4 separate regions of the Homo sapiens genome follow, and all the other regions are linked to region 1. Evidence: fine-mapped expression QTL. A gene starts in region 1. Each other region holds a variant in brackets. All regions are shown on one strand. Distances are from middle to middle.

Region 1 (6,178 bases):
AATGCTTCTGTTCTTGCAGAAAACTAAAAAATTGGACTTGTGATGGCCAAATAGAGTAAAAATAATCATTAGATGGTTAAAAAAAAAAATTCACACGAGCTTAGACAAAGCAAATTGAAACTGTTGGCCTTGAAATACTGGCTGAGAGAATTACTCATATTAAGTTTACCTACATCATAATAAAAGATACAATATGTTAAATGCAAAGCTTAACTAGGACCAGAATAAATTTAATAGTACAGGAAAGTTCTCGAGAAAACAAAATAGAAATGTGAGCCAGCCACTATATAGTAAAAAAGCTAAAAAACCAATATATGGACATTCTTAAAAACCATTCATTTCATTATGAAAGGCTTCTAATACAATTCTGAAGAATAATTTCTAAAAATGGAAATGTTCAGATATAAGTAGGGAGAAAAATTAGGAAATGAAATATATCATCTTTTTTTCCAAGTCCTTCAATTCTTGTTTTGCTTCAGTGTATGTACAAAGCAAACTTTCACCTACAGTATAACTGAAAAAACAGCTTTCCAAATGACAGGCCAATTTTAAAAACTAGTCATATCACTAAGAAATAAAAAGTTTCAATTGAGTGCTTAAAATAGAATTTAATTAAATCAATGAACTATAATGTTTCTGATTTGAGATTTTTTTAATGCTAACTCAATTCAAAATCCCAAAAAGCTGAATTCTCTTTATTAAACCGAAAAAAGATTCCTTTCCACCAGACTTGAGAAATCTCTCAAAAAAAAAAAAAATCCATTCAAACAAAAAAAAAAAGCTACACACCAAGAAAATGTTTTATGGTCAACTTTTTTTACCTTGTGATAAAAAGAAAAATGAATTCATTATTCTAAAAGAAAACATAATCCTGAAACTAAATTATCATGTCACCTTTCTAAAGATACACTAGTCTATGAACGAACACTTAAGTACATAGTACTAACTCCCTTACTAGAACCTAACTCATAAAATCATTACAGAAGATGAATGAATCAGGAGTAACTTAACATAACATCTATGCTCAAATTGACAACCTGAGCCTAATGGCGTGTGTCAGTATTCAACTCAGTATTAAGACAAATGGCTAGCTACCCACGTCAAGTGCAGTCACAGGTACAGATGAAAACAGAAGAAATAGAGTCCTTCCCATGACTGGCAAAAACTCAAGAAATCAGAGAAGCAATAGTCAAATTCTCTCAAAAACATAAAGTGGAATTTAATGATAAAAGGATTACATTTCGTAAGAATGTTCAAATCTGCCAAACATGTTTTGTTGCCTAGGAGCTAGTATTTTATAGCAAGTATTAACTATAAATTACCTATTACAACAAATCAAAAATAGACGCTATTAAAATGATTTCCTAAACGGGCACAAATATTGAGTGAAATTTTTTTATGCTGGTAAAGTCTGTGCAGCCACCGAATGAACAGAGCGCGGAACCGACCCTTGCGGAGCGATTTACAGGGTTGCTCCCCGACCCTTCACCTCCCTCCCCTCTCCACGGAGCCCTTCCTAGTGGACTTGGACTCAAACATTTTTTTAAAAGCTGCTCGGAACGCTTTCAGCAGCTTTGCTATAAACAACCCCCATTGTTACCAGGCCAGGAGCGAGCGTGATTTCCTCCTCCTCTCAGGGAGCCAGCCTGGGGCCGGCGCCTCCCTCCGGGCAGAGGCCGCCGCAGAGGGCCCTTCCTCGCGGCCCCGAAGGTGGAGAAGGCGCGCCTTTCCTCGGAGGCGTCCGACTCCGGGCCTGTGCCATCAGGCAGCCCGCACCTCCCGAACTTTGTGATACTGACTTTCCCCTCCCAGCTGGCAGCCTGCAAGTTTATGAACCCGAAGCACAGCGCGCGTCACAGGCTCCATCCCGGCCACGGCGAAGGGGCGCCGCGAGCCACAACCGGGCTGCAGGTGGAGGGCGCCGGCCCCGCGCGCCGCCGCGCCCCCCGCGCCGCCGGGGATGAGGCCGGGGCCGCGCCGCGCTCGCGGGGGTGGGGGCGGCGGCCCAGGTGAGCCACCAGGTGAGCGGCCGGAGAGGGGAACAGGTGACTGCCGCGCCCCGCCAGCCCCCGCTCGGCCCGCGCGACCCCGGGATACACCGCGGCAGGGGGACGGGGGCTGCGGGGGACGCCGGGGCCCGCGGTGGGCCTGGGGGAGGGGGAGGGGAGAGAAGGGGCGGAGGGGGGAGGGGGAAAGGAGGGCGGGTCCGCGGCTGGCGGGCGGCGGCGGGGGGGAGGGGCGGGGCGCGGCGCAGCGGGCGGGGGTCGCGCAGGCCCCGCGCCCGGCGGTGCTCACCTCGGTCGGCTGGCTGATCTCGAACAGGTCCAGCCGGTTGGCGTTCCAGTGGTGGATGATGTCGGCCAGCTTCCGCCGCTCCTCGTCACGGCCGCCCGCCGACATGGTCCTGGCCGCGCCTCCTCAGCCGCGCGGGGCCGGGGCCGGAGGACGGGCCGAGGACGACAGGTCCGCGGGGGCCCGGCGCCCCTCGCCACCCCCCGCCGGCCGCCTCCGCCTCCGCGGCTGCCTCCGCCTCCGCGGCCGCGCCGCGTCCTCCGACTTGGCCTCCGCCTGGGGCTCAGTCCGCGCCGCGCCGCGCCGCCTCAGCCCCGCCGGCCGGTGTGCGCCCGGCGCCCGCCGCCCGCCGCCCGCACCCGCCCGCGCCCCGCCCGCCGCCGTGCGCGCCGCCGCCCGCCGTGCGCGCCGCCGCCCCGCGCGGCGCCGCCGCACCTCCGGGCCGCTCCACTAGGTGCTGCTGCCGCGGCCGCCAGGGAGGGAGGTGTCGGAGGGCGGGCCCCGCGCGGTGCTAGGGTTCCGTCTGGACTGGCGGTGGTGGGTCCCAACCGGCGGTACCGGGTTCCTTCCCGACCAGCGGTGCTAGGTTCGGTTCGGACGCGCGCTGCTGGATCTAAATGGGCAGTGCTGGGTCCGATGGGTGGTGCTGTGTTGGGTCCGGACGCGCGGTGCAGAGTCCGGACGGGCGGTGCTGGATCCAAATGGGCGGTGCTGGATCTGGACGGGCGGTGATGGGTCCGATGGGCGGTGCTATGTTCGGTTCGGACGGGCGGTGCTAGGTCTAAATGGGCGCTGCTGGGTCCGATGGGCGGTGCTGCGTTCGGTCCGGACGGGCGGGGACGGGCGGTGCTGGGTCCAAATGGGTGGTGATGGATCTGTGGACGGGCGGTGCTGGTTCCAGACGGGCGGTGCTGGGTCCAGACGGGCGGTGGGTCCGATGGGCGGTGCTAGGTTCGGTTCGGATGGGTGGTGCTAGGTCTAAATGGGCGGCGCCGGATCCGATGGGCGGTGCTGGGTTCGGTCCGGACTGGCGGGTCCGGGTCTGGACGGGCGGTGCTGGATCCAAATGGGGGTGCAGTGCTGGATCTGGACGGGCGGTGCTGGGTCCGAACGGGCGATGGGTCCCATGGGCGGTGCTAGGTTCGGTTCGGACTGGCGGTGCTGGGTCTAAATGGGCGGCGCTGGGTCCGATGGGTGGTACTGGGTCCGGACGGGCGGTTCTGGGTCTGGACGGGCGGTGCAGTATCCAAATGGGCGCTGCTGGGTCCGGACGGGCGGTGCTAGGTTCGGTCCGGACGGGTGGTGCTGGGTCTAAATGGGCGGTGCTAGGCTCAGCAGGGGACCGGTGGGCGTGGCGGCACAGGTACGGAGCGCAGGGCCGGTGGAGCGCCCTCTCCGAAGGGCCCTGCGCTCCCCGCGCTCGCTGCTCCTCCTGCCCGCGCATTGCCCCGGGGCTGCTGCGTGTTTCTTCCAGGGTGATTCCTTTCCGCTGGGTCACTTCAAAGCCGACCTTTTCAAGCTGTTTTCTTCCGCGGAGGACACGTTGTTAGGCTTTGTGTGCATTTCAAGGGTCATGTTTTCTGAACCGCGCTCTGCCGCTCTTGGGGTGTTCGAGCCCCCACACTGCTGTGCGGTGTTCCTCTCACAGAGTGAGGTTGGAGGGTCCCACTCCCTTTGTGTGTCTCCTTAGAAAACGCCTCTTCTCTCAGACACATCGTTATCTGCCAATTCTTCGCAGACGTAGAGAACGGACTGCAGAGTTAATAAACGTCGAGGGGAAGCTTTGATGCGCCCCATTTGGCCCTGAGAGATGCCACGTGATCGTCATTTTAAATCCTGTACGTGTCCCCGTGGACGTGGAAACCTGAAATTAATTTCAGTAGCAAGCTTTGTGAATTGTAGGGATTTTTTTTCATAAGGTGTCTTTTTTGTAATTGCCCCTCCCCTCCCCCACCCTTTGTTTTGGCTGCAGAGCGCCATCTCTGCAGTCTCCCCACGCCGGGTTCAGTCAGGCGAAGTTGCGTTATCTGTGATGTGTTGTAACAAAAAGCGTTTATCTTTGAAACACTAAGGCAAGTAATGAGAAGAGTGAACTATATTTGACAAAGCCTTTTTATTTTTGTCATTACTTTTTTTTCCAATGTGGAAATAATTTTTCTCTCCACCAACTGGATTTCCTCTTTTGCAGACAATTAAAGAATTCTGTCATCCCCACTGGGTTCTGTCTTTTCTACCGCACTTGTCCAGTACAGCTACATAAGGAGGCTTCTCAGCAGAGGAGCCTGGGGTGTTGAACCAGTGCCATGAGGGAATGAATTATTCAATAGATCGCTAGTCTCCTTTCTTAAAATTAAAGTGTGGTGACTTGCAGAAAAGCATCTGTGTCTAAATGTCATCTTCGTGTTCTAGCACTCGGTTTCTTTATGCCTTTCAGTTCCTGGGCTTCCCGATGGACTCGAGTTTTTACTATGTGAGCATCCCGGTGCCTGCACAGCAAGGACTCTCATTGGGTTCCACACGTGCTGCGCAGATCCCTGACGCAGCGTTCACTGAACCTCAACTGCAGGAGCTTCATTCCTGAGGACGCTGTTACCAAGAATGACTTGCCTCTTGAAGAATGAGTTTGCAAAGCCGGCAGTTAGATTGCTGATGTCCAAAGTAAGTATGTGTAGCATCACTAAAGAGAAAATTCAGGATTCCTGGAAAACAGTTATGGGCTCTCTGCAGTGTTATTTTTGTAATAAAAAACATATAGCATATGTGAAATACCTACTGGGTGATGCAGGACACATAGAAGGCTCGAAATTAATGTGAATCATTCTCGTTTTTCTGACTGTCATTAAAAGTCCCCATTTGTATTATGTATGAGTGGTATATCAATATCTAAACTACACTTTATTGTAGGTCCCAACCAACATTAGTTTATTGACAAATGTTTAAGAGCAGCCAAAAATTCATAGAATACCTATGATTCTTAAATCATGAACACTCCCATAACTGGTATATGTTTAGGACATGAAAATTTCCAGGCTGACAAATAATTTCGCTGTCATCGGTCAAGACTCCAGGATGATATTCTGAGCCATATGTTAATTTTGATAACCACCTAGAACAATAAAAGGTAAACATGCTACCATCTTCTATTCTCATTGCACCACTGGATTCTGGTACATCTAAAAATTGTACTTAAATGATATCCAAGAAATGCTGTAAAAAACAAAATAGGGCCGGGCGCAGTGGCTCACACCTGTAATCCCAGCATTTTGGGAGGCCAAGGCGGGCAGATCACGAGGTCAGGAGATCAAGACCATCCTGGCTAACACGGTGAAACCCCGTCTCTACTAAAAATACAAAAAAAAAAAAAATTAGCCGGGCATGGTTGTGGGTGCCTGTAGTTCCAGCTACTCAGGAGGCTGAGGCAGGAGAATGACGTGAACCCGGGAGGCGGAGGTTGCAGTGAGCTGAGACCGCGCCACTGCACTCCAGCCTGGGCGACAGAGCAAGACTCTGTCTCAAAATAAATAAATAAATAAAAGAATGGGCTTTTCTGTTATTAATTCCATTTTATACATGGTGAGACTGAAATGCAAGATAAAGGACTGGACTGAAGCTAAACAAACCTGCACTGGGCGAGGTTGAAAAAGACCTTTTTAATCTATAAGTCGGTTTTTGAAAATTCAAGTTTCTACTTTATAATTTTAGTTTTCCTTTTAAACGTATATTATTGTTAGTTGCACTGTTCAAAAAGTTTTACAGCTTCTATTTCAATCAGCACTGGTATACTAATATTTTTAAGTATCTCCTATCTAAAACCAAAATCTACGTAAAACCTAAAAGTACCAGGTAATAGAGGACAACAGAGCAAGACTGTCTCTTAAAAAAAGAA
Region 2 (5,000 bases), 86 kb before region 1:
AGGCTGGCATGTAATTATTAAGTTCTGATTGAAGACAGTGAACCAAGTATCTGAAAATACATAGACAATTTAAGTAATCTTAGCATGACAGACAGCTATTGTCAGACATGTTATCACATGGGAAACAATCTGGACTCTTAAAAAATATTTTCCATTAAAAAAAAAATGTGGAATCTTGAAACATAGCTCACTGAATTCAGTATAACTATATTAAGGATATAACTATAGGTAGTTAATACATTTTGCAAAAATGTATGCTTCTTTATATTCACCTTCAATCAAGGTAAATATAAATCTTAAAATTAGTTTGGAAAACTGAATAAGAAAACAAATGACTTAATTATTTAGAGTAGTGCCGCCTTCAAAAATGTGTTCCTTACTTAAATGCCATTTGAACCAAATGTGCTAAAACATCTTGAGCATCCAGTGTGATCCGACTAAGGTCTCGGTCTTGCTTAATGAAGTTGAGAAGTTCAGATGCATTTGCCATCCAGAAGGCAAGTGCCCCTGCAATATTCTTCTGTTTCTGTAGACAGAACACACTTCCATAAGCAACAGAGAATAAACAAAAGTAATAAAAATATAAAGGAATGCTCTTGAAAAGCTGCTGAAGATAGACCAGTACCTTCCCATTTCACCAAGGTATTTACCACAGATACCAGATATTTGCAAAATAATTTGGGTGCATACATAGCAATGGGAAGTAAATAACCACTGCAACTATTTCTTAGGATTCATGCACATAGACATATGGATTCAGTTAGCTACAATTTATAGATGGAATCAGCGGAGAAATGGAGATATCAAATAATATAACACCAAATTGTAGACCGTGCATTATCTGGTAGTCTGTGCAGTATACATACATGTATCCATGGTTACCCACAGCCACCCTGATACTTGTAGTCACTGGCTTGGACACCATGCAACTCAGTATCAAGTACTGATCTATCACATCCTCTCCCGACCACATGTGCAGGCCAGGCAACCTCAGATGAGATCCAAAGAATAGGAACCAAGGATAAATAATAAAGAGAAGAAACAGAACTTTTGTCATTTCATATCCACACTGAAGTGCATTAAGCAGAAATTATGAAATGCCGATAAAGGTTGCACAGTCAAAAAGGGTTTTAGTACTGCATGTCTCAGTTGCTGAATGAGTGTTATGAGCTGTTCAGTCCAGCTGTTGTATTACTTATTTGACATGGGAGCAGCATGAGAAACTTGGCTAAGCAACACAGCTAGGATCAGCTCCCAGCAGATGTCCTACCTGGTCAACCTGGTCTACTTCCTGGAGAAAAACAGACGAGGGGAAATCAAGCAGAACGAGAGAAAGAAACTTGTAAACAATCATGATAGTTTAAAAAAATCAAAACACTAATATGAAGGTACGACATGAAGGTACGACATTTAGTTATGTTATTCCCAAAATAACATTTTCATTTATGGTTCTGAAGCACCTTTAGAAGTATACGACCTAAAGGATTAGTTTTATGTTCTTACCACTGGCACAATAACTAACTGTATTTTTAGAGTTTATCAATAAATATGATGTTACCATAAACACACATGAACACACTGATCTCTTTAAAAGATTTACAATGGAAGGACTTGTGAACGAACATCTTTCAGTGATATGGTGTGCTTACTACTTACTTAAAAGGTACCTAATAAGGTGAAAGTCCATCCCTCTAGATTAATTAATAGGAATGGAAGAGACAGGAAAGACCAAGAAACAATCAAAATAAAAGCTGAGAAGATGAGAATTTAAAAGTGTATAAATAACTTACACCTATACTAAAGGGAGCAAATTCTTTGTTTTTTGAAAATAGAATTTAAATTATTCACTACCACAGTTCTTTTCCACTACTTTAAGATTCCCCCCACTGGATACTAACCCTAAATCTGAAGTTTAAAAGACTTGTTTGATAATGGTGATTTCACTGACTAGTTCACATCAATAAGGAAAAGGCTATCAAGGGTAGTTTTATGATAGGTGTCTCACAACTCGAAACAGGCTTAGTAAGTCCAAACATGATAGAAGACAGACAATGGCTTTGAATGACAACTGAAAAGGAAATCCATGTTTGTTTATAAAATAATGACATGAAAGTAACAAAACGGTATCCAAATAAAATGACTTTCTTTTTTACCTATTTCCTAACTTGGGTAAAAGAAGCATAACCCTATCAAACTCATGCTAATCACTCAAATATAAAAGAAACATTTCTTGAAAAATTCTGGCCTTTGAAAACAATTCTGAAGGAACTAAAAGATCTTAGTTTCCCTCAAATGATCCTGCCAGGAGAAAAGCAACCAATCTATCTATGTTATTAACATTATATAACTAGAGTTTTATTAAGTTAAATAACAACATTGACAAGTGATTCAGAAAAACTGAAAAAATCTGTACATTTACTTTTAAGAACTTTAAAGATTAAATCTTCAAATCATCTGTAGATGAAAAACTGCTATGAAAATTTTATCAACTGTAGATCGGGACAGAAAGTACGTAAAGGAGTCAAACCATTCTACCAACAAAATACCTTTATCTTCTGAAATTTTGAAAACAGGTTTATGACAGAATTTCATTTTAAGTGAGAAGTATGTTACAATGTCCATTACACCTACACATGTGCTATCAAAAAGCCCAATTACTACCAACGTCTAGGCTCATTACACAGGAGCAAGTGACTTTTGAGAACCATTTTTAAAAAGTCTAAGAAGGCGTTACCAGGGAACGGGGGAA[G/A]AGAAAAACCCCAGGAACTACTTGAGGGGTATCGCTCTGAGGTGATGGAGACGTTTTGGAACCGACAGGGGTGGTGGCTGCACAACACTGTGAATGCACCAAATGCGACTGAATTGTTCACTTCAAAATGGTTAATATTATATGAACTTCATCTCAACAAATTATTTACAGAAAAAATTCTACAAAAGCCCACAACAGTCTCAGCACTTTCTCACAACTATTACTACAAGTTAACTTCACTTATGCTGAAGTTTTACAGGGAAAACAAAATAGAAAAAAGCTTGCATTTCCTTTCAACTCTTTAAAGTTATACATTTTCCTACAATATTTACATAACTTTTATTTTAGAAAAAAATCTTGTAACCAAATGAGAAGCCTTAAAGAAGCTGAATTCACTGGCTTAGCAATTACAACCACAATCACTGGAGGAGCATGGCTGGCCGGCTGGAACGTACCTGGATGACACCCTCCATCATGCTCACCATCTTGTTGACGACTGCAATGACTTTATGTGTGCGCTCTGTAGGGCTGATGTCAGGTCTGTACTGGTTGGACAATACATACCGGCATGCCATATATAATACATATGTAGGGGACAACTTAAAGTGGACTGTAGAGCTATTAGTATAATTTATAATGGCAGACAAAAATGAATCTTCAGCTGTGGAAAGATTTCAAAAACAAAGAAAAAAGGAAAAAAGAATAAAAACGAATGTGAAAATCAGATGGAGTAAAATGGATCAAGAAATAATTCATTGACAATGAAATCTGAAATTACTCACAACTTTCCCTGAATTCAATGCTTGCAGGTAGTATCAGCTCAGGCCCAGAAGCATCCTGTGTTCTAAAAGAAGAAAGCTGACATCACTTAAAATAAGGTCACATGGCTAACAATATTACTGACAACCTGTGTAGATTTCTGCAACTACTTTTTAAATCTATATACTAATCTTTCCAACGTAAAATAATAAAATATCCCTTGTTTTCAGATGTAGCCTAATCAAATAATGCATTGGGAGTGATCTTATCACGACTCCTCTAAGAAGGTTAGTTCCTTGAAGTATATGCCGCCGCCATGACAGCAGATCTGACGTGATTCTGGATTATTAATGAACACTTCATGTCTAGTACAGGGATCGGTCTGTCTTGCATCTGCTACAGCTATGGCTCAGGTAACACTGAAAACAAAGTACTAAGTGACACAAAGAAAAACTAACCATGCCAAGCTTGAAACGGAGTTCTTATACTGAAAGGGAAAAGCTTCCTAAGACCTGGACTTTGTCTTTCTCTGCTGACACAGGGTTAGACAAGCTGACCACGGCAAGTCTCCTTCAGCCATTACTATCATCATTTTCCAATGCTTACAGTGACGCATGCCTTATAAAGAGATGTTCTACTCACTCACATTTCTTCTTACGGTCACATAAATTCCAGGTCCCTTCCACCATTTAGCCTGACACTACACAAATAAGGAACTGTCAAAAATTATAAATACAAAGAAACTATAATTTGGAACATTTATAAAAACTAGCATTGTGCTGATGTTTATCTATTTCCAGGTATTCAGATCAAATTAATTCAAAAGTTAGGTTCATTTCTATCTCTATAAAAATATTCTTCAAACAGTGTGTCATCACCCATTGGCAGGGCAGAAGGCTGTTTTGTGAAACTACTCTTTCAGTTGAATACACATTTGTATGTGTGTTCACCAGAGCACAATGTAAGATATAATCTTGTGTTATAACCACAGTTCAAAAGCATTTTGAAAGCCATTGCTAGGCACAGACTCTTTAAATGTGTAAGATAATAAATTACAAATCCAGTTTAGATTTCCTTATCTTTGTGGATTTATGCTTTTCTCAATGAATAATGCTCAGCTTATTCTTTCACTTAGCCATGTGATTAGAACTTCAAGCCATTTACTTATTACTCTAAGTTCGCTACCCACTGTATTTTATATACAATATTTACCAAAAACCAGCGAAACACATAGTCAAGTGATTAGCTTCCTTAACATTTCAATGTCTTTATCATTTTAGTTCAACTTTAACAGAGATAACCAGGAAGAATTCTCAAAAATGTCTCTGAAAAAATAAGAAAATTTAAATTGACAGTAAGAGCCAGGGAACATGTGTTTTGCCTTCCGCAAACTTAATGAAAAATGAAATTGTGGGGATATTAATGACTTAAACTGTGATGAACATCTCTACTGAGTTAAATATTGACTTAAACTGAGACTAATACTTACTCA
Region 3 (6,352 bases), 120 kb after region 1:
GTTGGTTCACAGGCTGTGAGGTGTGATGGGTGATGCCAGGCTGGTTCACAGGCTGTGGGGTGTGATGGGTGATGCCAGGCTAGTTCACAGGCTGTGGGGTGTGATGGGTGATGCCAGGCTGGTTCACAGGCTGTGGGGTGTGATGGGTGATGCCAGGCTGGTTCATAGGCTGCGAGGTGTGATGGGTGATGAGGTTCACCCCCCGATACTTTCAGCTGAAGCTATTTGAGAAAAGTGCAGAAGCAGGAAGCCACACTCACCTTCCTTCCTCCTCTCCTGACTTGGGTCATAAAAGTCAGGCAGGACTCTCTGGCCCTCCCGGGAAGCTGGTCTAGGAGCCCCGCCTGTGAGAAGTGGCCACCCCATCATGTGGAGTGGAGTGTCCTTAGCTCGGGAGCTGAAGGGCCACACAGGCCTGCCAGGTCCCCCCGCTTTGCTGCCAGTAGATCATGCTGCTTCCTTCTGTTCTTTCCTTCCACCGCCCCATTTTCACCAAACCCCCTGTGAAACACACTCAGGCTCGCCTGTTTCTTCGGGTTGGCATTTCCTTATGAAGGCTCTTGTGTCACATAAAACTTAGATGAAGTAAAATGTGCACTTTCCTTTGTCCATCTGTCTGTTGTGATAGAAGCTTCAGCCGTGAACCTAGGATGGGTGAGGAAAGACGTCTTTCCCCTACTGAGCAGCTCTGTTGGAAGTTTTGCATCCTTTCCTTCCTCCCCTGTTGGCTGCTATTCCCAGGACCCCTTCCTTGTCCACTGTCCCTCCCTTCCCAGCCTGAATGCGACAATGGAGACTGCCTTGGGACGGCTTGGAGGGCCTCCACTGGCCTTCCCTTCTGTGCCTCTCTTGCTCTTCCTGCTGTCCCCACCCCTGTGGGTCTGCATCCTGCAGAGGTGCACACGGTTCCTGTGGGACAGTAGAGAAAGCATAAGCTATACACAGGCTGCTGAGCAGGTGCCACACGCTCTCGTGCTTAATCTATTCCTGGACCTGGGCTACAGAAACACGCCAAGAAAAAGGTGTAGAAGTTATTACCCTGAAAGGAAAGAATCATCAAAACGAAATTCAACAGGTGTCACCCAAGGATGTTGGCCTAGGAAGGCACTCCCTGGATGCGGCGCCGTGCTGTGGGGTGCCTGCGGCTGTGGGGTGTGCCTGGGCCCGCCATGGGTCCAGGGCAGCCTAGGGCGGGTGTGGATGGGAGCCTGCAGGGCTGGGGTCTCAGTGGAGCGGGAATCCTGTCTTGGCCCCAGGATCTTCCTGCAGTGCTTCAGGTAACATTTTTCTAGGCTGCAGGAAGATTTCCAGGAGCTTCCTTGAGATGGCTGCAGCCTTGTTTGCGTCCTTGGTGAATACGTAGATGTTTCACGATTCTTGGTCATCTCTGAATCCGGGAGATCGACGCTGAGTCCTACTGGCGCTCCTGCTGCCTCGCTGGGCTCACTGTGGGTGTCCAGCGGCCCTGGACCAGCCCAGATGCAGCCTCTCGCCTGGAGGGTATTCAGGAAGGAGGCCAGTGTCAAGCAACTCCACCCTATGGATTCTGTTTCAGATAAAACATGCTCATTTGGCCAAGGCCAACACAGGCACCCTCCCCCTGCTTTGTCTGGACGTAAGCAGCTGAGGCTTGGCCCTGCACCGTCAAGAGGTCTACCTGGCTGCAGAGGCTCAGCCTCCCCCCTGAGCACTGTGGGGTGTCTTCCACCCTCCCCATCACATGCTAAGCTCTTTCCTTGTAGCCATGGGGCATCGTGACAACATATTTAGCAAAATGCCACAGCTGTCATACGTGTGTTTCTCCAGCTGCTGCTTCTGAGCCAGCTTCCCAGGCCTCGGATAGACCAGAGTTCGCTCATCATGCCGTCTCTTCAGTGACTGATTACGCGGGAATTCGGGAAGTGCCGACTTTCCCCGGATGACTGGGTTTCTTGATGTGATACTCCGCTCAGCAAATCCTACCTTCCTTTCCCTTTGCAATTCTTGAGACCATTTTCTGCTTGACAATAAAGTGACCTTAAGGCACCGTGTTCATTTCAGTTTCAGACAGTTGTTTTGCTCCTTTTTTCCTGTGAGAGAAAGACACGAAGCCCCCTTCCCTGCTGCCGACTTTCTTGGTGTGTCCCTGATGCCAGGCCACCTGTGTCTTCACGGGAAACTCCACAGACCAGGGGCTGTGTAAGATGTCTGGGTGATGTACAGTCACTTTCTGCAAACTTAGAGCATGAAATAGTCAGGACAACATGTCAGCCAGGTCATACCCTTCAGTTGACTATAGTTTTGTCTGGGAGTGAAATTCTAAACTGCCAAGCAGCTTCTGTGTTATGCTGTAATCATTTAGAGCCTTCTCATTTTTGTAAGACTTTTGACTTATCTGTTTCTTGCTTAAATGCTTTCTTCTTTAGTTACGCCTTTCCTGGATGGACATGCGGGCTGTGCTATGTCTGGAGAGGCACCGGGAATCCAGTCACTGAGGCATGCTCACCGTGGCTTCAACTGTGGGCATTGATTTCTTCCCTGAAACCCTGGAGGAGACACATCGGGGCTGTTCTCCTGGCTTCTTCAGGTGTGTGTTCACACCTGCATCTGGGCCTTATGGCCTCCCTCACGGGGCCACATGGGAAGGCCGGGTGCAGGGAGGCTTCTGTGGTGGGGCTGGGGGTGTCTTGTGAGCTTCTTCCTCTCCCTCTTTTCTTCCTTTGTTGTTGTTTTTTTAAATCATGAAGGAAGAGTGATTCCCAGAATCTCACCCCTCTGGACTTACCCTTGGTCTCATTGGCCAGAGCTGGCCACGTGACTACCATACTGGCCATGGAAACTGAGGCAGCAAATATCTGGGTTTTCAGGCTATGGTGGGAACAGCTGTTGAGAACAGCAGCCGGGTCTCAATCGTGGACTGAAGTAAAGCTGGCTGTAGGTCCTCATCCTGCTGTCCCGTCGCTGCAACGAACCGCAGCTCCTCTCATCAACAGGGGCTCCTTTCCCACCCTTGGAGGCCGCGCAGCCTCTGACTTGCTTTGGCCGGTAGGAAGGGGGCCTTGCCCAGCCGAGGCCTAAGACGCCGTGAGCTCTTGCAGTTCCCACGAAGCCCTGTACTGTCACGAGCATCTGCCTGGGGCCCTGAGAGTCTCTGCGGGGCCCAGCTGGCGTGGGAGGGGGCTCGGCAAAGCTAGGTGAAGCCACCCAGCCGAGCCGGCTGAGCAGATGCATTCATTCTCCTCCGCCCCAGCTCAGAGAGCAGCCCTGCCCCAACACCACCTCGACGGTGAGCAGG[C/T]GCCAGTGGTGGTGGTTACGTGCACAGAGGTTTGTGGTTGTTTCTTGTGGTTACCACTGTGGCAATAGATAACTGATAATGGAAACAATAGCAACTACAGACGCCCTCACTATAGAATATTTAGAGGGCTAAAAATGTGTAAATACAGAAAATCACCCGGAAGCCTACCCTGCAGAGAAAACTATTATTAACACTTGGCAGGGGTGCCTTTATTTTTCTATATACTCCTTTTTCAAGTGTAGACATTATACGGTATGTAATTTTTTTCATTTAATGGTAAAAGTTTGTTTTTCATTTTAATGAACACTCTTCTTAAATATCAGTGTAATAGCATGTAAATATTGGGTTATTTGTATAGTTCAAAATTTGTATAAGCATTCCAATTTTGGATATTTGAATTTTTAAAATATTAATGCAATGAACATATCAGTACATAATATTTTTGCTCATATGCACTTTACTTCTTTCCTTAAGATGTATTCTTAGAGATGGGAGTCCTGGGCCAAAGGCAGGTGGCAGCGTCCCCGTCCTGTACCCATCCCGCTGCCTTCTAGGAAGCTGGGGCTGGGTCGTGTGCCCACATCCCATGGATGGAGAGTTCTGTTTCACTCACCATCAGCAGCACAAAGCGTCATCATTTGAAATGTTTCCTTCATGCTTCTAGAAGAAAGGTGTTTTCATTTTAACTCCAGTCGCATGGTGCTCACCTGCTGTGGTGCGTGTCTGTCTCCGCCAGCCGCAGGCACCAGCACGGGAGGCTTGTGTGGCCCAATTCTGGCATTGATATTTGTGGGAACGTGGGTGGACAGGGCCCGAGCAAAGTTTGCTAGTCCCTGAGAAAACAGCCCAAGAGGACACATCTCTTCCTCTTCCACTGGCCATGGTCAGATCTGAATGTGACGGTGGGACCATCGCAGCCTCTCTCGACCCAGGGTCCTGGCTGCCTGAGACGCGCAGAGCTCCTGAACTAACCAACCCTGAGCTCGCCCTGCCCGGATCTGCACCTCCGTTCTTTAAGGAAATGCACGTGGTGCTGCTCCAGCCGTCAGGCTTGTGCGTGTTCTCTGCGGCTGGCGCCTCCCGCGTGCCGTCCTGTGGCCTCGCCCTCCTCCTACTGCTGCTCGGCAGCTGGGGGCTTCTCTCCAGGGTCGTGTGATGGCCTTTTGAAAAATGTAACCAATAAACTCAGACACCTGGAAGCTGCAAAGTGTGTATGTGCCTCTTAATAAAAGATTTTTTAGCATGCTTGTAATTACAAATTTGTTTGCAATTAATATTAAATAAAGAAATAACAAAGAAGAAAAAGTAGATTTCTGGTTTGGTCCTTCCTGGGCCAGCTCTAGTTCAGGGGCTCTGAGGATGCTGTGGTCAGAGAGGCCCTACCAAACACCCCTCTCAAGACCTTTCTTCTCTGTATGGGTGGTGGAGACACAAAATAAACAGGGCTTTCCCTGTGAGGGACAGAAATAAAGAGGATTCAGAGAAGGCCACTCTGAGGAGGAGACATTGGACCTACCACGTGAAAAGAAAGAGAAGGAATTCACTTCAAGAAGGGTGAATTCTCATCAAGACCAGTGAAAGAGTATTTCAAGCTGTCTTGGTGCTGCACATTTGGCAGTAAAACCAGGAGCTTGGAGTACAGTGGTCTGAAGCAGCAGGTCCAGCGACAGCTGCCAGAGGAGGGTGGGCCTCAGGCTGACCCCGGGCAGGAGCTCTGTGCTGACCGTGGAGTCTGCTGGGGCCACTGTGCTATGTCTTCCACTGCTGGCCAAACCTTCGCCCAGGGTCCTGGCAGTGGCCAGAGGAAAACAAGCCAACCACGTTCAGACACGTTCCTGGAGCTGGGAGGAGTCTCTCTGGAACTGGGAGGTGTCTCTCCGGAGCTGGGAGGAGTCTCTCTGGAGCTGGGAGGAGTCTCTCCGGAGCTGGGAGGAGTCTCTCTGGAATGAGGAGGAGTCTCTCCAGAACTGGGAGGAGTCTCTCCGGAACTGGGAGGAGTCTCTCCGGAGCTGGGAGGAGTCTCTCCGGAACTGGGAGGAGTCTCTCCGGAACTGGGAGGAGTCTCTCCGGAACTGGGAGGAGTCTCTCCAGAACTGGGAGGAGTTGCTCCGGAACTGGGAGGTGTCTCTCCAGAACTGGGAGGAGTCTCTCCAGAGCTTTGAGGAGTCTCTCCGGAGCTGGGAGGAGTCTCTCCGGAACTGGGAGGAGTCTCTCCGGAGCTGGGAGGAGTCTCTCCGGAACTGGGAGGTGTCTCTCTGGAGCTGGGAGGAGTCTCTCCGGAACTGGGAGGAGTCTCTCCGGAGCTGGGAGGAGTCTCTCCGGAGCTGGGAAGTGTCTCTCCCGAACTGGGAGGAGTTTCCCTGGAACCCCCTCCCCTCCCAGGGCTGAGTCAGCGTCCGAGCCGGGAGCTGGGGCTGCCTTCCAGAGGCTGGCTCCCTCCACTGAGAGAGGCTCAGCCCTCCCTGGGCATTTGGGCTGTGTGGGAGACAGAGACACCTGCATGAGACCATCCTAGAAGGGAGGAATCGCATGGGTGGGGGCAGCTACCAACAGCGTGGAACACTCAGGGCCTGAGGCTGGAGGAGCCTGGTTTGCTCAGAAACAGAGGAGGCTGGCGTGGCTGGGACATGGCCCTGGGAGATTGGCAGACATGGGGCCTGAAATGTCTTCAAAGGCTGCCGACAGTGGAGCATGGGGGCAGTGTGAGGCAGGAGCTGAGGGTCAGCCCTCCACAGGCCAAATGTGTCCAAGCCCGGTTCCTTGAGAGCTAAGCCCAGGCCTTCAGGAGCTGAACCATGCCTGCCTTCCTCACTGGCCACATACGCCCTGTGGAGGGCTCCATGGTTACACACACACCGTGGAGTGGGTCCATGGCCACACACACACTGTGCAGTGATGACCCATACTCACCGTGGAGTGCGCCCTTGACCACACACTCAATGGGGGGTCCAGCAGGCAACAGAAGGAAGCAGTGAGGCTCTTATTCTTTGTGTAGTCGTGAGTCGCTTAGCAACGTTTCAGTCCATGATGGATGGCACAGACAACGGTGGGCCTCTGAGATGATCGTGGAGCTGGAAG
Region 4 (6,352 bases), 220 kb before region 1:
GCAGCCGGGCCCATGACCGTTCTCACGGCGGCGAGCTGTGATGGGGAGGCTGCCTTCCAGGTGCCAAGGTTAGAAAACAAATCCGGGGCAGCCCTGCCGGGAGAAAGCTGGTATTCTACAAAGGCGCGTGAAGAGGTGAACACGCAGTGGGGAAAATGGCGCGGGTTAATTGTTTATTAATCACAGGCAGCTCACCAATAAAACCGTCACCAAATATTGTGTTACTGTGTTTTTCAGCTTTTTAAACTTTGTGATGTGGTGGTTTTTTAATGTTTCTGTATTTAGATTTATTTTCATACTTTAGAATTTGTAATCTTATCTTTTGCCCTGAAGGAGGGCTCCCCATCACCATCTAACCATGGAAGTTTCAGGCCTCAAAACGGGGCCCAGGGTGAGGACTCCTCTGATCTCAGAACCTTGGGTCACACAGCGGCTGCCATTCCCTGCTCACATCCCCTGGCTACGGATGAGGCCCCCGGGCCACTGGGCACAGGCTGGGGCTCCCTCCCGGCTCGCCGCCGGCCCATGCCTGGTTCTCCAGCCGCCCCAGGGTGGCAGTGTTCATCCTGAGTCCCCTCCTGGCTCTGCCCTGGCATCTGTGCTCAGGTGACCAGCCAGGCCTCCCGCTGGCAGGGGTGTGGTTCTCTCCATTCAGCCACTGCTGCTGTCACAAACCAGTGCACGCAGCAGGAACTGGACGTCACCGTCACCAAGTGGGGACCTGTTCGCCGCACCCTCTGTTGTCTGTCCTTGGACATCAGGGCCATTGTCCGCCCACAGCCCTGGACATCCACGCTGTTGGGGCGGCGGCAGGGCCTGGCGCAGTGGGAGAAGAGGAAGAAGCATGTCCTCAGAGCCAGATGCAGGAGTGTGCCCTGTGGGGTGCGGGCCAGGCTCCCTCCTGAGCGGACATGGGAACACGTAACAGTGGGAACAGGCCGGCCTCCAATGGGGGCCTCTGCAGGAGGTGGGCTGGGAGGAGGACGCGCCTCAGGAGCCTCCGGGATGCTCTTTATGGCCAGGCACGGTGCTTCACACCTGTAATCTCAACACTTTGGGAGGCCAAGGTGAGCGGATCACTTGAGACCAGGAGTTTGAGACCAGCCTGGGCAACCTGGCAAAACCCCATCTCTACAAAAAATATAGAAATAAAATTAGCCGGGCATGGTGGCGCCTGTGGTCCCAGCTACTCGGGAGGCTGAGGTGGGAGAATCACTTGAGCCCAGGAGGTCAAGGCTGCAGTGAGCTGAGATCATGCCACTGCACTGCAGCCTGGGCGATGCAGCAAGACCCTGTCTCAAAAAAAAAACCAAAATGCTCTTTGTTCTCTGAGGAAGGGGCTGCCCAGCAGAAGGTGGTGGGAGGGCATGAGGCTTTGGCAGCCCTGACAGTGCATGGGTGGAGTGCCCACCTGTGGGCTGGGGTGCAGGTCTGGGAGGCCGGCACTGTCCCCCTCGGTGGCAGGTGTGTGAAGTGAGGCATCCAGTGGGGGTCCGGGGCCGCCTCCCCGCAGCCTGTCCTTGTGTTTTGCTTCTCACATGTGATTCCTGGGAGCAGGTGCCCTGGGCTCCCAGAGAGGCTGCAGGACACACACCAGCCCCGGCGTGTCCACTGCACTGTGTCTTCCCTCTGGTCACTACAACAGATCTTCATAGGCCGTGTGGCCTCACTCTGCCCACTCCTCATGATTCTGGAGGCTGGAAGTCCAGGATCGAGGTGCCGGCCAGTTCCATTCCTGGTCCAGGCCCCCTCCCTGGCCGCTACGTCTTCTCAGGGCGGAAGGGGCTTGCGAGCTCCCAGGGCCCCCCTTACAAAGGCACTAATCCCACCCGTGAGCCTCCATCCTCACAACCTCACCGGCTCCCACAGGCACCCCCTCCTAACACCATGGCCTTGCTGGTGAGGATTCCCACACAGACGTCGGGGGGCGCACTCAGCCCACCCTGCATTACACGCTGGGACACATCCGGCTCATCAGTCTCCATCCCGGTCTTGGGATCTTCAAGGCAGGAGCCTCCGGCCTTGACTGCAGTTTCCTCGGTGCCAAAGCAAGACCCCGGTACAGGAGGCAGCCAATAAATGGGCACAGAACAGGTGAAAGAGGGAGGGAGGGCCAGCGGATTGGTGCTCTGTGCACCTCAGTGGGCAGGGCTGGCTTGCTCTGGCTGTGCTAACTGTATACACCTCCTTGTCCACCCAGGCTGAGCCACAGTCCACATGGCTGTGATGGAGCTGAAGCCCCTGCTGAGGGGCAGCTGGCGTCCGGCCACGCCCACCCCACATTGTTCTGGCCCCCCCCACCCCATCCCGGGGCTTGCCCGAGGAGCATGGCTGAAACTACAGAACGTCCCTAGCACTTCAGGGAAACAGATGTAAAATATCCGTGGGTTTTGGCCAAGCTCCACCAAGAAAGGAGAAGGTCCAGGGAGTTATGAGACCCCCAGGGCGTCGGTCACCCAGGTCCTGCCCACTGGGCTAACAGCTCAC[T/C]GGCCTCCCACAGCAACACCCCCAGGGTCAACATTCCACCACCTCGGTCTCCACAAATGAGGTGTCTTCCATTTCTGCTAACTAAGCAAAGTCAGCGACTGGATTACAAGTTCCCAGGCCCAGGGCCTTGGCCACGGCAAGGCTGCTGGGCTCACACTGTGCTGAGGAGGCCACGGCTGCCCCAGCCACACATGGGCCCCCGGCTTGCCCTCCGTGCGCTCCTCCTGCCTCCTCCGACCGCTGCTCTTTCCCCGAGTATCAGGGCTGGGCCAGGCTGTTCTCGAAGTGAGGTCTGCAGTTAATTCGGATTGTGAGACGAGCCTGGTCCCAGACAGTCCTGAGGGAGCATCCAGGGCCGCAAGCCTCACTGCACGGCCTCCCACCACTCCCCAGGGCCTGTTCCTGGCTACGGGGGAGGGGCACAGGCAGCCTGCGGAGGAAAGAGCAGGCAAGAGAGATCTGGGGGAGCCAGGCGTCCCCCCCATATCTGGCCCCCTCCTGCCTCACACTAAACGATGGCCAGGGCGGGACTCTGGGCACGCAGGGACCTCCGGCGAGTACCAACAGGCCCGGGGGCTGGTGTCTGTGACGCTCTAGGACGGCAGCGTGCGCCCCTCACAGGGTAATTATAGTACAGATCACTCGGTCCGGCACAGGCAGACACTTTGTCATTCCCCCTTTGCCACTGTGGACCCTTCAGGCCTCTGCACAGAGGCCGCCCCCGCAGGGAAGCCACCCCGGACCCCGAGATGGGGCCGGGCCCCTGTGGTTCCGCTCTAACAGGCGCCTGTCGCAGCTCTCACACCCTGGGTGGCTGTGGTGTCTTCTGTCCTCCCCATTTGGGCTGTATTCCCCGCACAGTCTCCACGTGCCACCTAAACCTCTGCTGAGTGTTTCCTCCCACAGATCACTGGCAAATCTCTTCAAAACCAGCGGCCTCTGACCCGCTACAAGCTGAAGAGGACAGGGTGTTTCATTCCAGCCTTGCAGTGTCCTCTGGACGAAACCGCATTTGGCACCCAGAGCTGCCCCAGCCCTGGGCCCTGGGCCCCCACCCCACCCCACCCCCACCCTGGCCCCCGGCAATCTTCCCTCCTCGGGGCCTGGGCTCCTTCCCTTCCTCCTCTCCTCTCCTGAGCCTGCCCATGTCACAGGTTCTGTGGCCAAACGGCCTGAGGGAGGCAAGGAGGGGGTGCTGTCCAGGTTCAAGGCGCCCCTCCAAATATGCCTCGTCCAGCTGTGAAGCTCCCAGACATGTCAGCCCTGGGAACATAAACCTCGCACCAGAGTCACGCACTCACCCCATAAGGCGGCTCTCGTGCATGAACAATTGTGCCGTAGGTCAGCGCTGGGGAGGTCTGGTTGTGCTCAGTTTGAGGAAGCCACGAGTGTTTCTGGAGATGCATTTCTCCGTGGCGCTGGGACTGCCCTCCAAAGGTCCACGTCTGTGAGAGAAGGAGCCGGACCACGACTGAGGGGCAGACGCTCCTTCCCGCCCACTCACAGGCGCTGCGAGTCAGTAAGTACGTGGACTTCCACAGCCTCAGCGTCCTTGCTTTTCAAATGGGTTGATCCTAAACACCTTCAGAGGCCCTGAGCCAAGAGGAAGAAGCTAATGAACATGAAGATAGTAACCCCAGAGCAGAGCTGTTAATTGATGGGACGTCTTTGAGTTTTAGTCACTGACTAGTTTTGGGTTTTTTTTCTGTATGTTTCCTGGGTCCGTCCCTCCCTCTCCCTTCTTAGGGGCAGCGTGTCAGCACCACGGTGATGGGCCACTGAAATCACTGGTGGTGGCCAGCGGTGGGGTGAGTGCCTGCAGCCCCACACCCTGGAGACTGGGCTGGTTTGCTCTGAAACCCTGGCACTCTGGGTGTGGCCAAGTGGACCAGGGTGAAGACTGGGCCCAGGCTTCCTTCTAGGAAATGAGGAGTTGGGAGTGAGAGGCAGACGAAAACCTGGGAAGCGAGGACTCAGCTGCACGCCCTGTGATGGGGCAGAGGGTTCCAGTCTGCAGCGTGGGGGCGTCGAGGGTGGCAGGCAGTGGGGTCCGGTGCCTGGGGCCCAAGCGCCCCCCACGCCCACTGCCCCAACTCCCAGTCTCTGTAGACGCCCTTGCTCTAGGCTGTGACTGGCAGGTTCCTGAGTCACTCGCGCCTCTGCCATCCCGCGTAGAGGCTGGCCAGAGCCGGTCCAACACTTCCCCAGAGGGAAGCTCTGCCATTTTCACACGGTGCCCGTCTCGGGGCACCACTGTGGGCCCCACGCAGCTGTGGGGCGAGGCGTCCACGCATCCTCTACAAAGGCAGCTTGGTTATCACAACGCCGGCCTTGCTCAGAGAGGAACTTCATCAAACACACAAAGAAGGCTTGTCGAGTGTCACGCGGCTCAGCCAGGCTGTCCCTTCGGTCACGCTATGGCAGCAGCTCGGGCCCTTCAAGGTCAGAAGGAGGACGGCAGGGCCTGGCGGCAGTTGTTGCTTGGCACTGCTGTTCAGTGCGGGCTCCACAGAGAAGCTTCCATCTCACCAGAGCTGCCACCTCCTGAGTCCATCATTTGTGCGTTGGTGTCTCTGTCCTACTAAAGGAACTTCGCACCTCAGCAAGCCGGTGAGGGGCTTCCTGAGCCAGGGGCATCTGCCTGCCTAAGGGCCAACCCTAAAGAGAAGTTTGATTTTATTTTGGGCACTGAGGGAGCATCTCAGAACCTGTGGGGTCATTCAAGTCATCACAATGATGAGGGGACACAAGTGACATTGAGCAGACAGGCACCAAGGACGCCAGGTCCCCATAAGGCACAGGACACTCCCACCCAGCAAATACTGTCCCGGGGGCCACGTGGCTTTAGCCCCCGTCAGACATTCACAGGTGGAAATCCTGCATTTGGTGATCCAGGCCTGAAACCTCACACTGCTCTCCATAAAATCAGGAAGGATTATTTCTGCAGTTTTAATGTACATTATGTGTCAGGAATGCAACAGTTGTGTAAACCAAGAGAAGCTGAAACTTTGTAACATTACCAAGAGGTTTTCACCATGTACAAAATTATATCACATTGCTATACTGCTGGTGACATGTGAGTCACAAATGGGACACTTGTGACAATTCCATGTCTGTGTGTCTGTCTGCTTTTTGTAGCGGCCACATTCCTGGAGATTTTACATGCATGTACGTGCACACACACACACAGATACAGTCACTTGGCCCTTATTTTTAAATTGTCGAATATACATAAATTGAATATTGTCTTCCTTCTTATACCGAAACTCATTTACTTCGCTGTGTGTTCAGATGTAGTTGTTTTGAAAGTTTTACGAATTGAAATATACTTATGTGTATATACACAGAAAAAAACTTTTTATTTCTCCATTATATTTTTATTTTTATTATTTATTTATTTGAGACTGAGTCTCGCTCTGTCGCCCAGGCTGGAGTGCAGTGATGCGATCTCGGCTCACTGCAACCTCAGTCTCCCAGGTTCAAGTGATTCTCGTGCCTCAGCCACCTGAGTAGCTGGGATTACAGCTGCCACCATGCTCAGCTAATTTTTGTGTTTTTAGAAGAGACGGGGTTTCACCATGTGGGCCAGGCTGGTCTCAAACTCCTGACCTCAAGTGATCCGCCCGCCTCGGCCTCCCACAGTGCTGAAATTACAGGTGTGAGCCACCGCATCTGGCCTATTTCTCCATTATATTATAGTTACATCATTATATTGATTCTTTTTTTTTTTTTAAAAAAGGCATGCTCTGTTAGGATTATATAATCTATGTATAATTTCACTTTAGGATAATCAAGGGATCCTTAAAAATAGGTGGTGTTACAAAATGGAGGCATTTGTCTGTGGGGTTCAGCACAGGGCTAGGTG

The links. PIP is the estimated chance that this variant, and not a neighbour inherited with it, causes the effect.
Region 2: its variant is fine-mapped to the expression of AFDN in whole blood (TOPMed, PIP above 0.99).
Region 3: its variant is fine-mapped to the expression of AFDN in whole blood (INTERVAL, PIP above 0.99). The same link has a PIP of 0.9 or more in blood mononuclear cells and monocytes.
Region 4: its variant is fine-mapped to the expression of AFDN in lung (TOPMed, PIP above 0.99).

Annotation. Positions count from the first base shown.
Region 1 is chr6:167,823,355-167,829,532 of GRCh38, reverse strand. It overlaps AFDN (afadin, adherens junction formation factor), which reads right to left and starts at 2,622. Exons shown (of 34, transcript NM_001386888.1): 1 at 2,296-2,622. The coding sequence starts at 2,400. AFDN-DT (AFDN divergent transcript) reads left to right here and starts at 2,737. Exons shown (of 2, transcript NR_027906.1): 1 at 2,737-4,130; 2 at 4,727-5,643. RefSeq lists silencers at 2,470-2,669, 3,584-3,653 and enhancers at 2,820-2,899, 2,930-2,999.
Region 2 is chr6:167,909,694-167,914,693 of GRCh38, reverse strand. AFDN (afadin, adherens junction formation factor) reads right to left here. Exons shown (of 34, transcript NM_001386888.1): 14 at 3,532-3,593; 15 at 3,205-3,410; 16 at 1,271-1,291; 17 at 381-526; 18 at 1-50. Among named protein-coding and RNA genes, the nearest start is that of HGC6.3, 68 kb to the left of the region's middle. The variant G/A (reference allele first, on the strand shown) is at 2,750.
Region 3 is chr6:167,703,366-167,709,717 of GRCh38, reverse strand. No RefSeq gene overlaps it. Among named protein-coding and RNA genes, the nearest start is that of LINC02487, 10 kb to the right of the region's middle. RefSeq lists enhancers at 654-1,374, 1,375-2,096, 5,894-6,352. The variant C/T (reference allele first, on the strand shown) is at 3,275.
Region 4 is chr6:168,046,957-168,053,308 of GRCh38, reverse strand. FRMD1 (FERM domain containing 1) reads left to right here. Exons shown (of 11, transcript NM_024919.6): 11 at 1-214. Among named protein-coding and RNA genes, the nearest start is that of FRMD1, 29 kb to the left of the region's middle. RefSeq lists an enhancer at 4,393-4,892. The variant T/C (reference allele first, on the strand shown) is at 2,488.